Regions from separate parts of the Homo sapiens genome. Here all the other regions are linked to region 2. Evidence: fine-mapped expression QTL. A gene starts in region 2. Each other region holds a variant in brackets. All regions are shown on one strand. Distances are between the middles of the regions. Region 1 overlaps TNFAIP8 (TNF alpha induced protein 8). Region 2 holds the start of TNFAIP8 (TNF alpha induced protein 8). Region 3 has its middle 62 kb from the start of FAM170A.

Region 1 (4,241 bases), 32 kb before region 2:
CCTGGGATTTACTACAAGTCTATCAGTTGGACATACTTTATGTTGTGAAATATTGAAACCAGAGGGAGAGGTATTCATAAGATTTCTCCTTTATCCAAGACTGGACTTTCATGTTTACACCTCTTCTCAGCTACTTTTCTGATTAAATCTCAATATCCCATTTAACTTCAAACATGGAAAACAAAAACTCTATGATACAGCACTTCAACTTCCTGCAAGAGAGTGTGTAACAGGCAAATCTACTGCCAACTAAGCAAGATCATTCCCCATTTACTGGTAATCAAGTATGAATCAAGATAGAGAAGTTGATCTCTGAGGCTTTCATATTTATCCTAGAGGAACTTCAAACCCCGCTCCAGAAACACAGCAGCTGTGTCACACTTTCCTTTTATTCTTTGGGTTATTCCAGTGAAGTCGTCTTTTTAAATGAGGTTGAAGCTCCTTGTTCCCCTCCACCATCTGAAGCTCTTTCTCCCCCTCCACCAAGAAGACATGCATGAGTAGATTTATTTTCCAGCATTAGAGAAAGTTTTTTTGAAGCCAACTGGGGCTTGTGGCTGAGAGTCGCTGGCCAGGGATGTGTGGTCTGTGCTCATGAAGTTTGTTTCTTTTTCTTGCAAATTAACTGCTGTTAGCCATTCCTGTGCAGGCTCATTTGTCAGTTCCACATGCTCTACCAGATCCCTTAAAAGTCTGGTGTATCTCAGAGCTAGTCCTGGATCAAGTTTTTCTCCTTCAGTCTATCCTCACCCCTGTGTGATCTCATCCACTGCCACAGCTTCAGATACCACCCATGTGCCAATGACTCCCATAGCCATAACTCAGCCCTGACCTCTTTTCTGGACTCATTTTGTAAGTGCATTCAAGATTTTTCTTTCCTTGACTATTTTGCAGGCATCTCAAATTTACCATATGCAAAACTGATCTTTGATTCTCTCCTGCCTCCCTACTAAGTGCTCCTCTTTCACTCTTTATGATCTCAATTAATAGCATCCCTTCCAACCTTTTGCTCAATCAAATCAGAGACCTGGGGATCATCCACCATACCATTCTCTCCCTCACCCAGTCCATTATTAAGTTCTTTCCATTCCACCTTCCTCCTGCATTTCTCTGAATTCTATCCATTTCCCTCCATCTCCACGGACAGCAGCCTAGTCCAAACCCCTTTCTATCTCTTTTCACATATCAGCCAGAGTTTCAAGAAATGAAATTTGCAAATGGGGCCGGGCGCAGTGGCTCACACCTGTAATCCCAGCACTTTAGGAGGATAAGGTGGGAGGATCACTTGAGCCCAGGACTTTGAGACCAGCCTGGGCAACATAGCAAGACCCTGTCTCTACAAAAAAAACTCAAAAAAAAAAAAAAATAGCTGGGCATGTAGTCCTATTTGCTCAGGGGGCTGAGGTGGGAGGACTGCCCGAGCCCAGGAGTTCAAGGCTACAGAGCTGCAGTGAGCTATAATCATGCCACTGTACTCCAGCCTGGGCGACACAGCAAGGCCCTGTCTCAGAAAAGAAAAGAAAAGAAAAGAAAAAAAAAGATGCTTCATGTAAGTTCTTTGCTAACTATCACACCTCCTTGTTCCTTAAATCCTCTTCATTTGCCTACATTTTTATTGTCTGCCTCTCCCTACTAGGATTTAAACTCTGAGAGCAAAGATTCTGTGTATCATGTTCACTGTGTCAACTTGCAGGCCTAGAGAGTGGCTGGTCCAGAAGCAGCAATCAATTTCCCCTATCTCATCCACAATATACTCAAATACTTTTCTATGAAAACATGTTGGCCTGTAAAACGAGAGTTGTAAATACATTAGTGGGTGTTTTTGTTTGTTGTATTAAAAGGTAGAAAAACAGGTATTTGTTTTACCTCACTAAACATGTGGTTTTTCTTCCCTCTAAGTGCGCTCCAGAGTATGATTTCTCTTACTGTCATCAACCAGTTCTTTTAAAGAGGAGAGATTTGTTGTGCATAATGGGAAAACATCCAAGGACAATAATGCAAATATTTAGAGTAAAAGCAAGGTGTAGTTCTGACTTGAACTGTAGCAGGAGATTAAACACAGGCCCACCTCTACTTCTGGCTGGATCTATGTTTAGACATGTGCCAGAGGGATACCTAAGGCATGTCCTGGGAAGCAACTAAGATGTAAACAGGAGATGTTCCCCAAGGAGAAAGTGCTGAAAATATTCATTCAGTTTTTTGCCTCTTAAGATCAATTCACTTGTGTTTGGAAACAGACATGTAAATTGT[T/C]CATTAATGAAGAATAATGCTGTATTTAAAAAAAAATACAAAGCATTACCACCACATTAAAACTGTTTAAGATTATTTTCTAGAAATAGGGTGTAAATGTTATTTTACATTACTTATCTTACCTCCCTCCCTCTCTGTCTCTGTATCTCCTCCCTTGGCCATTTCAGCAACATTTGCTGTAAGGCAAAGTGATATTTAGGGAATTCTGGCTTTAGCATCAAAATTATAAAGTTAGAGATAAATATGGTTAAAATATACTGACCCAAATATTCAAGAAAAAATATGCTCAGAAGGAAAAAAAAGTCCTTTGTTATTAATACTTAGTTTTATGAAAATTAACAAAAATGCCCCATAACATAACTACTCCCACTGAGAATTTTCTAATAAAGTACTCAAATCATTTTCTTTACAGTCTTACCAGTAAATACATAATTTTTTCCCCTCAAATCTATTATACTTGGGACTCTTTAACAGTGATGACAACAGATGTACATACATTGCAAATTCTTGCCTAGTTAAAACTCGATCCAGGTTTCCAATATTAGGAAGGATAGAAAAGATAATAATTTGGAAAGCATGTCTGGCTGTTGTCTGTTAATAAAAGTTCTTTAAATAAATATATAAAACCTTAGCTCTCTTGTATCTAAATAATTCTAAATCTAATGGGACTTAGTAAAAAGTCAGCTTTGGTGATAAGAAAGTGGCCAGAACAAACAACGAACCCTGTCATAAGAAGTCAGCAGGCGAAGAGTTGACCTCCCTACATGGAGATTTGGCAGTGCTCCAGAGAAAAGCAATGAACGCTCGGAGTAGCTAGTGATGTGTCAGTGTCACCAGCTTTCATACTCAAAATCCCAAAGTCAGAAATTCAACAGCATAGAGAAGAAACAACAGAGGGAAAGAGAGAGGGAGAAGGAAGGAAGGAAGGAAAGAGAGGGAGGGAGGGAGGGAGGGAGACCCAGTAGAAGCAGCACAGATATGAACTCTAAAGGGGGCTGCCCTGGAAGGGTCAGAAGCAACGACCATGGCAGCAAGCTGGAGGCAATCTTATCAACTAGAGAGAGAAGACAAGTGCCAGGCACCTTAATCCCAAAATTGGCCTTATGCCACACAGATGGAGGCTGTCACACAGAACATAGTCTTGGGAGAATCAATACATCTGAAGTCCTTAACCTGATACGGAATGCACATTTTGGGGTATATGCACATCCCCCCAAGTGGTTAAGAACCAGTGACAGGCACCATTACAGTGGCAAGCTAAGTCATTCACTCTGTTTCTTATACTCCAGAAAAATACATGCTAACCTTAAAAGGCAACATAGTAAAGAAGACATGTCAGAGAAAATGGTGACTTTGAAATACTCCTCCCCCGCAAAACAAAACAAAACAAAACAAAACACTGGGTTCTTTTGACGGGAGTATTAGGAATTGTCTAAGGCACTCTTCCAGATTCCCTTTATTGTCCTTCGCTTAGCTATTTTATACTCTGTAAATTGTAGAAAACTGATAATATTGCAAATGGCTCTTCTACATACAGACACAAATAAAATGTGTTCAGTGGAGCTGCATGCAATTGATTCCTGATTTTCTTGTTTGACTGCTCTTAAGATCCTCCTTGAACCAAATATAAGAGCTTACTGGTTCCCTCATTAATAAATGAGTTAAGTAAAATCTTCAATATGTGCAATTTGTATTTATATGAGAGTCATGAATTTATCCTCTTAAAAAACATACCTTGTAACACATATTAGAATGTTTTCCACCGAAAACATTTTTTTTAAAAAGACTGCAGTATGAACCTTTAATGCACTAGTGTTCTTTTTCTGTGGCAACTTATTTCCCCAGGGTCCTGGAAAACTATAGTATACTTATAAAAGTCCAAATACTCTGTAGCTAATGGTTCCATGAACTGCCACACTGCTCAGGGATATTACTGGTACTCGGCTTCCTCATCTGTAAGATAAGTACAATGATCCCCACTTTTTGGAGTT
Region 2 (4,241 bases):
GGACAAATATCCAGCACCCCTGGCACAGAGTCAAGTATGTTTTAAGCTCTGATGGCTTAACAATATCCCCAGTCATTTGCTTCTACATTCACGCATATGCAAAAATATGCTGGCCTCCAAGGACTTAGATTCAACCCCAAAGTATACTAGTCTCTCACTACAGTTGAGAAAAATGACTTAAAAGTATCTCCTCTTACAGCGTATCAGGCATGAAGCATCCAAAGGCAGTTTTCTTGCAATACAGACATTCTTAAGAACTCATGGTGATCTCACACTAAATGGGATACATAAGTTCACCAGGATGAAAAAAAAAAAAAAAGCTACGTATAAGAGGAAAAGGACTAGTAACGATAGAGAAGATAACTGAGTTATTTACACAACATAGCTCGCTTCATCGACATCTGAGTGGTGGTAGCTAACCAGAAGGTTCTAGATTACAGCCAATGAACCAGCCTTGGAGAAAACACACCCAAAACACACAGACACCTATCCTTCATTTCCTGGCAGAAGCTATATGATTCTATCTGATTAATAAAGTGTTCAATCTCCCTCAAGAGTTATTCAGTATCCCACCCTAATTGCTATCAATTTAAAATTCTACTACCTCAGATTATTTTAAAAGAAACATTCTGGGCTTTCTTTAAAAAGCAGAGCGCCATATCATTTGTGGCCGATCTGCAGAATGTAAATGATGACAAGTGGAGGGAAGGTGAGGAACAAGCAGAAGGGGCCCCATTAACCTCTTCATAGGCCAGTTTGCAGGCTGCTTCCAAACTTAAAACCAGAGAGCTGGGCCCTCGAGGAGGGAAGACTGTGGATGTTGCTATGGGAATGTATAATACACACTTTGGGATACTGTTTTTCCACTTTCTCTCCCACTCTCTCTTTCTCAAAAGACAGGGAAAACACACCTGAGAGAAAACGCCAGCTTAAGTGCTACTTGTAATTCACACAGAAGTTCACCCTTGAGTTCTCTCAGCCTGGTTCCTATTTGCCTTCAACTACCTTTGACTTTGAATAAACTGCTGGTATAAAGACATAGAAAAGAAAAGCATCTATCAGCACACAGCTCCATCAGAACACAGGACACGGCAAGAAAGCATTACTCCCCCCATACTCCACATCAAACTCAAAAACAATGCTCCTGGCTGTCATTTTTCATTCATGCCAGCCCCGTATTTCTATTAAACAAACCTCCTTTTTATTGACTATTTCCCTCACACAGCATAATAAGGTAAACGTGAGCCCACAAAGACTACATGGTGAAACACAAAGCTTTCCTCTGGGAGGGGAATCAGTAAAAGGCAGAAGAGGACAAGTTTCAAGGGCTCTTCCTAACTGGTGTCTACCAAATGGAGAAATGATGGGGCTGCTCCTCTGCCAGAACTGCTGTGATTGACTTGAAATTAACCAGCTTTCCAAGAGACTACATGAAAAGAAAGAGTATTTCACAATCTTGAATAGTCTCCTCTCTTACTCTCTAATTTTCCCCAACCACCCTTACTCCCACCCCCCACTTACAAGAGAACTTTTGTATACATAAAGTTTCAAGGAACAAAGCATACAAACACTCACACACAAATAAACTCCCCAAACTAACACCAGCGTATAATTGTGTTTTGGTTGGAGCTTTTCCAGCCCTGTCACCTGTTCTCTGTTAGGAGTAAATGAAACCCTTTGCTTTTGCGAAGTTAGAAACAGACAAACTCTTCTCAGTTTCAAGCTGCACAAGGACCCCCTCATATCTTTCAGCCCCCTCAAACCCCCAACGAAATGAACTCACTGCTGAAAACCCAGCAATGAAAAAAAATTAATCTATTTCTCAAATACAGATTTTCGCTTCCCCTCACTCAGCTTCCCCTTTTAGCCGGAAACATATAGCGTTTCTAATTTCTCAAACCCCTTTTCAAGGGACCCTCCACTCAGGGCTCTTCCAGGGATCCCGCTTTCAGTCTTTCTGATGCAGGCAGGCAGCCCTTTTCCAAGCACATTTTGCATTCTTGGAGTCCAAGTGGGGCTCTTTCGTTTCCAGAGAAAGCTAAAAAGCAGACTTAGTGGGCTGGCTGAACTAGGTCCGACTTTTCCTCCCCTCCCCTCTGAACGGCTGCGGGGGGAGAAGGGAGCCCAAGATGAGACCCGGGCTCCGCTTATCCAGCTCCGACTTGGCTTCGAAGGCGCAGGGCAAGCGGACAAAGTGCCCACCGCTCACTTTAAAACTCCCATCCTCTTCTACCACTGCCTTCCTCCAAATTCCTCCGCAGAACTTGGCCGGCCCCCAGGAGAAACCAGAATCCTACCTTCCTTGGATTCTTCTGCTTCGGAGTGCATAATGTCAGGATAACCAGCTGCAGGGGCGATTACCGCTCACATGTACTCGGACGAGCCGCAAGTTCGCTCTGCAGCGAAATCCGCACACGACGGAAAATAAAAGGAAGAAAGCCACTAAAATCAAAACCTCCCCGGGGCGGGAGAGCGGGTTCTGGTGCAGGGATTTTCAGGGGGAAAGTTCTGCAAGAGTGACGAATCGCGTGTCAGCTGGGCGGCGGGAGTCCGCCCCCGGAGCCGCGCGCTCGGGCCGGCAGCCGGGCGGAGGCGACCTGGCGGGGCTGGCTCGGCCCGGGCGCACGCAGGTGGGGCACAGGCCCAGACGGCAGCCGACTCTCCCGAGACACAGGGCCGAGAAGAACCGTCGGCAAACGCACCAGACGGGCGGAAAAAAAGGTATAAAAAGAAAAAAAAAGTCTCATCTCAGAGCACACTGTAGTTTTACATAAATAGCAAATGCATATAGGGTAGAACCAATGCCTCTGTATTTTTGGATTACATTTTTTGATGCCCATTTGACTTTGTCTTGGAGTCTTGCAACCCAAAAATTACGGATTTTAAAGCGGCTTTGGTATGTTATTTTTGTAGGAAAGTCGCATGGATATCGTCCATGGGGTTGCAAGGACCAGCTTAAGAGAGCACAATTTCACAAGTCCCAGAGCGGGGCCTTTTGAAGAAAGTGGAGCGGCCTCCACCCTTACCTTTGCACAGCAAAAGCAGACGGGGCTGCTTACTCATTCAGTATAGCCCCGGGCGAGCACTGGTACTCCAAGCACAGCCCGGGCACTCATTGCTGCAGTTACTCCAAAGGGCCTTCCTCAGGGGGAGAGCACGGTTCCCTCCCGGCTACCAGCAAAAACTGGGGATGAATTCCTTCAAAATGCCAAAGGGGAGGTTTTCAGGATTTGAAATGCTGATAGAATAAAGAAGCCGGACAGCCTTCACAACAGATCTCAATTCTGCCCCCGGGTCTGGCCCACAGGCCCCTACAAATTGGCTGAGAGGAAGTCCCCTTAGCTCTGTGGAGCCTTGGTTTTCCCTTCTGCAAAGCGGGGACAAGAGCTGCCACTGATAGGCCTGTCTTACGGAGGTATTTTGTAGAACACTTGTTTTATCGCCAGTCTGAGGCAAAAAGTCCTCAAATAACATATCTGAAAGATCCGCTTGGAAATTATGAGAAAAAAATATACTCTTTTGACAAATTTATTTTCCAGTTCGTTTCTTTTTCTTCGTTTCCGATTTTATATAGGCAAAAACCAATAGAAACACTATGGCAAATTTAGTGAAAAGAACGTACAAAAGACATGGATTTAAGGAGTCTGAACTTAAATCCAGTTCTGCCATCTATCATTTGTATGACCTTATGCAAATTAACCTCTCTGAGCCTCCAGTTCCTCATTTGTAAAATGAAGATAAAAATAGTATTATTTACTTCACAGATTTATGTCTGTATTAAATAAGGTAATATAAGCACAAAGGGATTTGAAAACCATAAGGACTACATAGATTATTACCATTGCACCATTAAAAGTAAATTTTTATAAAACATACTCTTGGGTTTTATTTCAGTATTGACTTTGAACAGAAAAGAGTGCTTATGCTATTCACAAGCAGTGAAGGCTATTATAAATATTAATGTAAGAGGTCTAGATATTAAATCACATCCTACTGCTGAGAGATTCTAACCTGCCTAAGATTCTAACATGTTATCTCAATTTCACTGAAAGAGCAGGATGAAGGGAGGAAGATATAGCCAGCCAGAGAAGGGAGAAGAGGAGAAACATCTGGAAAATATCAGTGTTGCAGAGCCTCCCGGAAACTGACCTCGCCACCGAAAGGGTAACAGACTGCACCCTTCCGAAAGTCACAGTTAACTTCATGGTCCCCTCTGCCACACATCCTGAGTCAGGAGCTGC
Region 3 (4,241 bases), 210 kb before region 2:
AGTCTAACATCATTTCTATTGGACCACATTCCCTCCCTTTTAAAAAGGATTTAGGAACCAGGTACGGTGTCTCAGCCTGTAATCCCAGCAACTCAGGAGGCTGAGGCAGAAGGATCACTTGGGACCAGGAGTTCAAGACTGCAGTGAGCTATGATTGTGTCCCTGCACTCCAGCCTGGACAACAGAGCAAGACCACATTTCAAAAAACGAAGGATTTAAACCAACACTACAGAGCAGGATAAATTTATTCTCCCATTTCATTAAGCAAAATCCAAAATGAACAGAATATATCAGGAAACACATTTTATCACTGCACTGAATTTTCTAATACTCACGACAGCCTACTTGCCTAAGACAAAACAGAGTTCTCCATCCACAGAGGGGACCAAGCAGAGGCTGCACAAACACATGTCAGGTACTTCAAAAAAAGGGACTGAAGCATTCATTGGGATGGCCCCGATGCATTAGAGTCAATTGGTTCTAAATTCTTTTCATTTCTCTGGTGGGCTACTCATTAAGAACAGACTCAAATTGCCTGTCAGCCTTTTCTGTAATTTTTACAGGTAAAATATTTCTGTGGGCATTCTAATTTCAAAAGACAGCAAAAACTCCGTATTTTAGTTGCAACATTTAAAATAACAACAATGTATGTTTTCATACTTGCCAGTTAATTTTCATCAAGTTAAAGCACACAGTAAGATGTTTCCTACTAGAATCCATGGGTTTAAAATCCTGAAATTAGCATACTAGTACCTCACAATCCCAACTGTGTGCATTTCTTGCCCAATTGTATCTTTACTATCTAAAGGTGTTTTCTTTCATCTTCTTTGAAGCATTCCTTCTCCTTTTCTTTCTATTGTTTACACTGTAAACGTAATGTTCTTTTTTTTTGAGACGGAGTCTTGCTCTGTCACCCAGGCTGGAGTGCAGTGACGCGATCTCGGCTCACTGCAAGCTCCGCCTCCTGGGTTCACGCCATTCTCCTGCCTCAGCCTCCCAAGTAGCTGGGACCACAGGCGCCCGCCACCACGCCCGGCTAAATTTTTTTTTTTTTTTTTTTTGTATTTTTAGTAGAGACGGGGTTTCACCGTGTTAGCCAGGATGGCCTCGATTTCCTGACCTCGTGATGTGCTCGCCTCGGCCTCCCAAGGTGCTGGGATTACAGGCGTGAGCCACCGTGCCTGGCAACTTAATGTTCTTAAGGAGCAAATCTGTGATGTTTATTACAAAACCTTGCAAAATTTTTAATAAAATTATTATAAATTCTGCTTGTTAAACTCAAGTAAAAGTATAGGTACATTAATATTTTCAGTGGAAAGCCTATCATGCCACATAGACTTTGGAGCTGAGTGAGCTGGGTTTGATTCCTGGTGCCATTACATCCTAACTTTGTGACTTTGGAAAAGTTTACTTTTCAGAAAATAATGATGAAAATTGCACGTAGCTCATGGGAATAAAATGCAATAATGTACGTGCCAGACCAGCATAATAGACAAAGCAGCATTTTACAGTGATTAAGCAAAAAGACTGCCTATATTCAGATCTCAAGTCTGCCACTTAATAGCAATATGATGTTGAGCAACTTAACCTCCCCAAACCTGTGTACTCATCTTTATAATGGGGGGCAATTACATAATCTACCTCATAGGTAGATTATATTGTTGAGATGATTGACTGGGATAATATTTGTAAGACCCTCAACACAGCATGCTGCCAGTGGTGGGCAACTCAGGGATAGTATTTCCCTTTCTTGGCCTCCTTCTTTCCAAGCCACCTCCATGTTTCCTGCTCACTCTTTCCTACCTTGCCATCCCACTTTGCCTAGAAGGAAAAAAACTTGTAACCTAGAGGCAGAATTCCTCATATGGAGAGAAACGTCTTTGTTTAGTTATCTACGTGTTAACACCATCATCAGCTGTGAAAAGAAACACTCTCATGGCCTGGTTGAGAAACAGAGCTAAACACTTATGCATAATAAAGTGGGAGAAGTTGGGAGCTTCTGGAGGTATGGGATATGAGGAGGGCAGATGTGAGAGGGGTCTCTGGTTTGTGACTTTTCAGCAGTGGGATTGGCCAAGCACTTCAAAGAATTAGAGTGCAAACAGCCTGCTAAGCTTAGCTGTATGTTGAGCCTAACACTTCAGTAAGTCTAGTACATATGGTGTGGTTTGGTGGAAAATATCAATGAAAAAGAATGCTATTCCACATTTGGATTCAATGCAATGATGAAAGAAGGGAATAGCTGAATGAGGTGAGATGAGAGACTAATAACTTCATGAAATCAGAAGTCGGGGTTTTAATTTCTCATGTAAGCAGAATAAGGACTCAAGCAAGCTCTTTTGATTTAAATATTAAATGAGAGGTGACCAGGAGGGCTAAAAAACTTGGGTTTCCACCACCTTCGCCCCACCAGTACTGTTAACATGTTAATCATACCATTTTCTCCTTTTCATCA[C/G]TTGCTTTTCGTTATGTATACATATACAGTGTAACTCTTACTTGATAAAGTAAAATACTTGATTTCAAAGCAAGGCTGAAACTCTAATGCTTATGGACTCCTAAAATCTTGAAACCAGAAGACGTTCTAGCCATGACTTAGTGCAAGCTCTTAAATTAACAGCTAGGAAGCAAGCCTGGAGAGTGACTTTCCCAGTTCTCATGGCAAGTTGCCAGCAGCAAATGGACTTGAGCTTTCAGCCAAGGGAGACCATTCCCTTCTTTAAGTGAGAAAGGGAATATATATAAGCCTGAGCAGGTAAGGTAGCTCACAAAACTAGGGAGCTATTCCTAGCTGTCTGCATATTTTCTTGAGTTGAGACATTCATTAATCCATTTTAGCAATGGACAATCTCTTTATATTAATTCTACCAATTAATTATGTCAATACATTATTATATCAGATACCTTTATAATGATAAATTAATGCTCTCCTTGGAGTGAAATATCATGATGAAACCCATTCTTTGACATATAAAAGTGAAATTAAGCATGAAAACAGGTCCCATTGATCATCAGAACTTCTAATATATTCATTTGCTTTCCTGTGTTTTGAGCTGATTTTCAGTGGAGTTGAGTTGAAGTGAACTTAGAAAATTCAATGCCTTTACAAAGAATATGAAGCTCTGAATAATTCATTTCTGTTGTAGTTTAATTGTTGAATAAATGATTAGACTAATTATCATTGAATTTATAAAAAGCAACTAAACATTTTAATTAATTTAATTAGGAGATTTGAAAACTGATTTTTTTAAATGGCTGAATGATAAAATCATAATTCTACAGCAATTCAGTGTGTTTATAATGGTAATTATTTTACTTTTAAGATCCACAAAGAAAATATAGATAAGCTATTGTATAGAAATCGGAGTAAATAGCCCATGTCTCAGACTTGTAGCTGTTATTCTTTAAAATAGTTATAAACTGAATTTAATTCAAGAGACAATTTATCTTTGCCAACTGTGATGGTTAATATTGAGTGTCAACTTGATTGGATTGAAGGATGCAAAGTATTGTTCCTGGGTGTGTCTGTGAGGATATTGCCAAAGGAGATTAACATTCGAGTCAGTGGACTGGGAGAGGCAGACCCACCCTCAGTCTGGGTGGGCACCATCTTATCTAATCAGCTGCCAGCTCTGCTAGGATAAAAGCAGACAGAAGAATGTGGAAGGACTTGACTTCCTGAGTCTTCCGGACTTCATCTTTCTGCCATGCTGGATGCTTCCTGCCCTTGAACATCAGAGTCCAAGTTCTTCAACTTTTGGACTCTTGGACTTACACCAAAGATTTCCAGGGGTTCTCAGGCCTTTGGCCACAGACTGAAGGCTGCACTGTGGGCTTCCCTACTTAAGAGGTTTCAGGACTCAGACTGGCTTCCTTGCTCCTCAGCTTGGAGACAGCCTATTGTGGGACTTCACCTCGTGATCGTGTGAGTCAACTCTCCTTAATAAACTCCTCTTTATATATACATCTCTCCTGTTCTGTCCCTCTAGAGAACCCTGACAAATACCAACTATAAGATTTTATCAGTAAAAATACAAAATATATTTGTTTGCATATGGAGTGTAAAAGAGGGGGGTGGAGGTCTAGAAGAGATGAGTCCCTGAGGTGTTGTAAAAAGACACTTAAGGAATGAAACCTTAATACATAAAGAAAGGCACTAACAAGGTATAAGCTAGGGGCACATTTTCAACTCTGTAAGGAAAGTCAGAAGTTTAAAATGTCAAAGATAAAGGGACTTCTTTGGT

Evidence for each region. PIP is the estimated chance that this variant, and not a neighbour inherited with it, causes the effect.
Region 1: its variant is the best candidate, but not a certain one, in a credible set for the expression of TNFAIP8 in monocytes (TOPMed, PIP 0.56).
Region 3: its variant is the best candidate, but not a certain one, in a credible set for the expression of TNFAIP8 in whole blood (TOPMed, PIP 0.81).

Annotation. Positions count from the first base shown.
Region 1 is chr5:119,385,924-119,390,164 of GRCh38, reverse strand. The region is part of intron 1 of TNFAIP8 (TNF alpha induced protein 8); the gene reads right to left. Among named protein-coding and RNA genes, the nearest start is that of TNFAIP8, 32 kb to the right of the region's middle. The variant T/C (reference allele first, on the strand shown) is at 2,251.
Region 2 is chr5:119,354,178-119,358,418 of GRCh38, reverse strand. It overlaps TNFAIP8 (TNF alpha induced protein 8), which reads right to left and starts at 2,400. Exons shown (of 2, transcript NM_014350.4): 1 at 2,298-2,400. The coding sequence starts at 2,328. LOC102723444 (a long non-coding RNA gene) reads left to right here and starts at 2,646. Exons shown (of 5, transcript XR_007058912.1): 1 at 2,646-2,721; 2 at 4,053-4,164. RefSeq lists silencers at 1,714-1,773, 1,571-1,865, 2,494-2,653 and an enhancer at 3,304-3,443.
Region 3 is chr5:119,565,190-119,569,430 of GRCh38, reverse strand. No RefSeq gene overlaps it. Among named protein-coding and RNA genes, the nearest start is that of FAM170A, 62 kb to the left of the region's middle. The variant C/G (reference allele first, on the strand shown) is at 2,456.